Linked DNA regions of Homo sapiens. The protein of the gene in region 2 interacts with the protein of the main gene of each other region in a pairwise test. Each region holds a gene or a part of one and is shown on either strand. Other genes may lie near its edges.

Region 1 (3,500 bases), on a different chromosome or scaffold from region 2:
GTTTGTCAAATTTCTCTTCCTGACAGTGCTGATACTTGAACACATTGAAATCTTGAAGAAAACAGGTAAGTCAACAATTAGCTCACTACAGAAATGGGCATACCTAGTGAATTAGTACCTTTGGTTAACATTCTAAGGTTATTTAAAAACACAACTTGTTTTCCATTTCACTGTCAGAGCTGGGTAAAATGAAAGACAAGCCCAGCCTATCTTTGCCTTTTCATCCACTCGATTCTGAATCACTTAGGAAAATATGTAAGTGACGGGGTCAAACAATCCTCCCATCTCAGCCCCCCAAGTAGCTGGGGCTACAGATGTGCACCACCACACCTGGCTAATTTTTGTATTTTTTGTAGAGGTGGGGTTTCGCCTTGTTACCCAGCTGGTCTTGAACTCCTGGACTCAAGCAATCCGCCTGCCTCGGCCTCCCAAAGTGCCAGGATTACAGGTGTGAGCCACTACACCTAGCCAAGGCTAAGGTTAAGGTCATGGAGGAGGCAGGCATAGTATTAGGAAAGCCAATTAGAGAAGAAGCCAGCGGCTCACTCTGTGAAAGTTAACAATAAACAGGCCAGGCGCGGTGGCTCACGCCTGTAATCCCAGCACTTTGGGAGGCCGAGAAGGGCAGATCACGAGGTCAGGAGATCGAGACCATCCTGGCTAACACGGTGAAACCCCGTCTCCACTAAAAAAATACAAAAAATTAGCCAGGCGTGGTGGGGGGCGCCTGTATTCCCAGCTACTCTGGAGGCTGAGGCAGGAGAATGGCGTGAACCCGGGAGGCGGAGCTTGCAGTGAGCCGAGATCATGCCACTGCACTCCAGCCTGGGAGACAGCGAGACTCCATCTCAAAAAACAAAAACAAAAACAAACAAACAAAAAACAATAAACAAATACCTCTTCCCTGACAAGTTAGTTTTAGAATCAGCACTAGATAAGGAGTGGGGCAAGTTCGTGTTCTCTAAGAAAAAGGGGCCTAGGGGATAAGAGGGACTAGAGACACTACCTCATGTCAATCTCATTAAAAGTTGTCAGCATTGCACATGTATTCTGGGCCTCCTTCAGACGCTGAGCAATGCGCTGCCGCATCCTGTTCATTTTCTCCTGAAAGTAAGAGTGGAACAAGCATTGACAATCTGATCTCTCTGGGTCAAGCATTCCCCGTGTAGTCAGAAAGAACACGGCTTGCCACGAGTAGATGGCCAAGGACTACAGTATCTAAGTACACGAGCTCCAGGCTTCCCTTTCCTGTGGTGGCCCTTTCTCCTCCAAGCAAAAACATGCAAACACAGGCCAAAACTACTCACTCAGATGTGCCTAAAGCTTGACCAAGAATGAAGGCTCAGAAACAGTGATTTAAAAACCAAAACCCATTTATAAAAGAATGTAGTGTAGTGTAGTCTAGCCAACATAAGAATCATAAGAAAAAGGGCACTTTCTGTTGATAAAGATTTGCATAAGAATAGCTATTTGTGGAACAGAACCTCATGAGCAACAAACTTTCGAGGCTATCATATTTTTAGGAAGTATTCTCAGGCAGAGGAACCACAATCCTGACCATACTTCCTTGAGGCTTTATGTCTGCACCTGACAGCTATTGCTACTGAGTATTATCCCTTAGCTACAGCTAAGTATCCCAGAAGTATAGGAATAGAGCTCACTAAACCACCTCTCTGAAGCGTGTGACATCGTGGGAGGACGGGGGTGAGTTACTAAGCTACCACCCCTACAAATATTTAACTTACCCAAGGCTTTCACTGGTAGCATAATATAGTAGGAAAACCACTGAACAAGTGTTCAGAAGACCTCAGGTTCTAGTCCTATCATTTGATGGTTATGTGACTATGAAGAAGTTATATCCTAAACTCCCTTTATCAAGGTTGAGGGAATGAGCTGCCAGGCATTCAAAGGTAGGCATCACCACACCCATACTCCACTAATCTCAACACTGCCCCCTGCCTCTTTCCTGAAAGTGGTCCTCAGAGGCTTACCCGATGTTCTGAACGCAGACCTTTGCCAGCTCCTGGCTCAGCTAGTGGTGGGGCAACAGTGGGTTTTACTGCAGACACTGAAAATGAAAAGAGGATAAAGCTGCATCAGACAAGGAAAGAAACATCTGCTGAGTTTGTGCCAGTGCTTTCATATGTACTGTTACTTAATCTTCAAGATATTCTGAGGTATATTAGTATCACTCCAACTTCACAGATGAACAATCTGTTCAGATAAATTAAGTGACTAGCCTAAAGACACACAGCTAGTAACAGAAAGCTGAGATGCAAAGCAGGCCTTTGGATACAAAGTCTAGAATTCTTTCTACAAAGCAGCCAACCTGGCCTGTTCAGAACCATCATCAGTCTAGAGTTTACCCTTTGAAGGAACATATTAGACGAGATGTTCTCCCACATGACATGTGGGAGTTGGAAGCCTACCAGGTTTGCCAGAAGGAGGCTGTGAGGGCGAGGGCACCGGTGGCATCTGAGTGGGTATGGGTGCTGCAGGGGGAGGAACTGCCGCTGCTGTAGGTTCTGCTTTTGGGGCTGCAGCAGCAGGAGCTTCAGCCGGCTTGGCCTTAGCAGGAGCAGCTGAAAAACAAGAAAAGTATATGCCACTGGCACTGTCTGAAATGAGAAGCAACCAAGCAAAATTTAGTGGCAAAAACTCTAGCTCCAATCAAGTAACGAATGTCTACTGGGTATCAGCAATATGCAAAGCACTATGAGACACACACACAATGACATAAGGCACTATTCTCTAGTCCTCAGGGTCCCTAAATGTCCATCAGATAACTGGCTCAACTTAGCTCCCTTCCCAATTTCACAGGTTTCCACTGAATAAATTCAGCAAGTACTTTCAAAGCACCTATCAAGCCCAAGAAAATGTAAACTTCCAAGGAAAAAAAAAAACACCTAGGCAATTTAAAATATTGAAATGCATACATAAACATATTTCTAATTACTGATACTCTTCATCCTCTATTTTAACATTATATATGCAAGAATACTATTAAAAAATAGGCTGGGTGCAGTTGCTCACGCCTGTAATCCCAGGATTACAGGCCAAGGGATTACTCCCCTTGGGAGGCCAAGGCAGGCGGATCACAAGGTCAACAGATCAAAACCATCCTGGCCAACATGGTGAAAGCCCGTCCCTACCAAAAATACAAAAATTAGCTGGGCGTGGTGGCATGTGCCCATAGTCCCAGCTACTCGGCAGGCTGAGGCAGGAGAATCACTTGAACTCCGGAGGCGGAGGTTGTAGTGAATCAAGATCAGGCCACTGCACTCCAGCCTGGCGACAGAGTGAAACTCCATCTCAAAAAATAAAATAGTCATCGAGGGTTGACTTAGGCTTAAGAAAGCACTTCATCCAGGATGACTCATAAATCACTGAAGTGGCCAAGTAATAATCTCACAACTTTAAATGAAATGTTTGTTTCTGTTTTTCACCCATCTGGACATTATATCCAGGGTTAGTGCTAAGACAAACTTCTGCAACAGGAG
Region 2 (3,500 bases):
ATTTTTATTAAATGCATACTATTTTTAATGCTAGAAAAAATTGATTTACTTTCTATTATCAATCTTTCATTTTACATGTGGGGAAACTCAAGTTCAAAATTAGTGTTTGTCTCAGATCACACAACTAGTTACAGGCAAACTGAGACAATGATAATGACAACTACCACTCTGTTGACAAATATTTTCTTATGTGGCAAGCATGGGACCAACACTTTACACTGATTATGTTTAATCCTTGCAACAGGTCCATACTATCTATTATCCTCATTTTACAGATGAGGAAACATGGAGGCTTAAAGAAGTTATATAATTTTGCCCAGCCAAACCCAGGTCTGTACTGCTCTGCACTGCAACACTACATTGTCATTCTGCCTGTCTGTTACCATTCAATTCAGGGTTAGTCTTCTAGACTTGCGGTCACCAAACCAAATAAACCAGATGACCTACTACAGAATGGGAAAAAAATGCTAGAACTTTCTGGTTCCATTAGACTTTTTCCAATATTCCTTTACGTTTCTATTTTTATTACTTGCTAAAATATTAGTAAGTGGCCCACATACAACTACAAAGACACACAAAAATTGAGATATGTGAAAAATGTTATTGATAGGGTTCAAGGATAAGTGTTCATATTCAATTCCAAGGGACTGAAACACACTAACAATCTGACACTTTGATGTCACACTAGTATAGACTAGTTAGTACACAATAGATTATGACAAATTAAGTTCATATTAAATGATTATTTCACTGGCATAGAGATAATAAATCAGATCATCAGTCACAATGAGTTTCTCCAAGGTGAATCCACTGGAGTATGCCTTCAGAAGATTCTGTTAGATGTTGACTCTTTGTAGAATAAAAACCATAGGCTTCCCATTCCACTCTTCTATGAGGCAGAAAACAGATGGTGATCTGCCATGGAACTCACGCAAGAATATTTAGGTAAGAGTACATTCTAAGACTGTCCCTAAGACCCTAAAGACAACAGTATAAAGGGACTCCAGTATAACTGAAATGCATCAGTGTGTAGGAAGGTAGAGTGATTAGGAGTAAGAGATTCAACAGGGCCTTTCTATTTAGGTAAGTAATCCATTTACCTCAGCCTTCTCATACTTTGCCATTCTCTTCTTTCTGGAAATAACCTGAGTGGAAGAAAGACAACTATTGTTTTAGGACTGCTATTCAAAAAAAGATTATCTAAACAGACATATATGCTTTTAATGGACATAATTTTGATCTGAAAAAAAACTAATTTTAACATCTATCCATAAACATTTATTGCTTCTTAAATTAAAAATTTCACACCAGTGGAGTGGCTCATGCCTGTAATCCCGGCACTTTGGGAGGCCGAAGCGGGAAGATCATCTGAGGTCAGGAGTTTCAGACCAGCCCAGCCAACACGGTGAAACCCCATCTCTACTACAAATACAAAAATTAGCCAGGTGTCATGGCACGCACCTGTAGTCCCAGCTACTCAGGAGGCTAAGGCACCAGAATTGCTTGAACCCAGGAGGCAGAGGTTGCAGTGAGTGGAGATGGCATCACTGCTCTCCAGCCTGGGCTACAGAGTAAGACCCTGTCTCTTAAAAATAAATAAGGTGGGCTGGGCGTGGTGGCTCACCGGTACTTTGTGGGGCCGAGGTGGGCGGATCACTTGAGGTCAGGAGGTCAAGACCAGCCTGGCCAACATGATGAAACCCCCCGACTCTACTAAAAAAACAAAAAAATTAGCCAGGCGCGGTGGTGGTCGCCTGTAATCCCAGCTACTTGGGAGACTGAAGCAGGAAAATCACTTGAACCCGAGAGGCAGAGGTTGCAGTGAGCCGAGATGGCGCCATTGCACTCCAGCCTGGGCGACAGAGTGGGACTCCATCTCTAAAAAAAAATTAAAATAAAATAAAATAGGTCAGGCATGATGGCTCATGCCTGTAATCTTACCACTTTCAGAGGCTGAGGTGGGTGGATCACTTTAGGTCAGGAGTTCAAGACCAGCCTGGCCAATATTGTGAAACCTCATCTCTACTAAAGATACAAAAATTAGCCAGGCGTGGTGGCAGGCGCCTGTAATCCCATCTACTCGGGAGGCTGAGGCAGGAGAATAGCTTGAACCTGGGGGGCAGAGGTTGCAGTGAGCCAAGATCATGCACCATTGCACTCCAGCCTGGGCAACAGAAGGAGACTCTGTCTCCATAAATAAATAAAATAAAATAAAAACTTTCACTACTAAACAAAAAAAAGTCTACCACGACAAGTGAAACAAACAAACAAAAATCAAAATCAAAAACAATGCTGGATCCAATGGGACAACAGAAAAGAAAGAGAAAGAAAAAAAGGAAACAATGAATAATCTTTAAAGAAATTTAACAGTTTAGGCCAGGCATGGTGGTTCACGCCTATAATCACAGCACTTTGGGAGGCCGAAGTGAGCAGATCACCTGACATCAGGATTTCGAGATCAGCCTGGCCAACATGGTGAAACCCTATCTCTACTAGAAATACAAAAAAATTAGCCAGGTATGGTGGTGCACGCCTGTAGTCCCAGCTACTTGGGAAGCTGAGGCAAGAAAATGGCTTGAACCTGGGAGATGGAGGTTGCAGTGAGCCGAGATCGTGCCACTGCACTCCAGCCTGGGCAACAGAGCAAGACTCCATCTCAAAAAAAAAAAAAAAAAAAAAAAAAAAAAAAAAAAAAAAAAAAAAGAAGAAGCCGGGCACAGTGGCTCATGCCTGTAATCCTAGCACTTTGAGAGGCCGAGGCAGGCGGATCACGAGGTGATGAGTTCGAGACCAGCCTGGCCAATATGGTGAAACCCTGTCTCTACCAAAAAATACAAAAATTAGCTGGACATGGTGGCTTCTGCATGTAGTCCCGGCTACTCGGGAGGGTGAGGCAGGAGAATCAATTGAACCCGGCAGGTGGAGGCTGCAGTGAGCCGAGATCATGACACTGCACTCCAGCCAGGGCAACACAGAGAGACTCCTTTTCTTTTTTTTTTTTTTTTCAGATGGAGTCTCGCTCTGTCACCCAGGCTGGAGTGCAGTGGTGCAATCTCGGCTCACTGCAAGCTCCGCCTCCCAGGTTCACGCCATTCTCCTGCCTCAGCCTCCCAAGTAGCTGGGATTACAGGTGCCCGCCACCACACCTGGCTAATTTTTTGTATTTTTAGTAGAGACAGGGTTTCACCGTGTTAGCCAGGATGGCCTCGATCTCCTGACCTCGTGACCCAGCTGCCTTGGCCTCCCAAAGTGCTGGGATTACAGCAGTGAGCCACCACGTCCGGCCAGCGAGACTCCATTCCAAAAAAAAAAAAGAAAGAAATTTAACAGTTTGGTGTGCATTCTTCCACATCCTCCTTTTCCACACTAATACAAATATCATATATAAACACATGCATCTAAGTTTTGGGGTCTAAAAATGGGACCATGCAGTATCATCACCACCTGTGCACAGCTTGTATCAACATCATAGCAACCATTCCAGATCCAAAGATAAAGAT

Evidence for each region. The genes of interacting proteins can lie anywhere in the genome.
Region 1: the proteins of EPCAM (region 2) and DLST interact in binary tests that used the Homo sapiens proteins (3 or more experiments, as listed by UniProt).

Annotation. Positions count from the first base shown.
Region 1 is NC_000014.9:74,891,916-74,895,415, reverse strand, and holds part of DLST (dihydrolipoyllysine-residue succinyltransferase component of 2-oxoglutarate dehydrogenase complex, mitochondrial isoform 1 precursor), read right to left. Parts: exon of another isoform or gene 3,358-3,500; intron 2,583-3,357; coding exon 2,430-2,582; intron 2,069-2,429; coding exon 1,992-2,068; intron 1,105-1,991; coding exon 1,007-1,104; intron 1-1,006. UniProt on the Homo sapiens protein: Dihydrolipoamide succinyltransferase (E2) component of the 2-oxoglutarate dehydrogenase complex. The 2-oxoglutarate dehydrogenase complex catalyzes the overall conversion of 2-oxoglutarate to succinyl-CoA and CO(2).
Region 2 is NC_000002.12:47,382,811-47,386,310, reverse strand, and holds part of EPCAM (epithelial cell adhesion molecule precursor), read right to left. Parts: intron 1,146-3,500; coding exon 1,101-1,145; intron 1-1,100.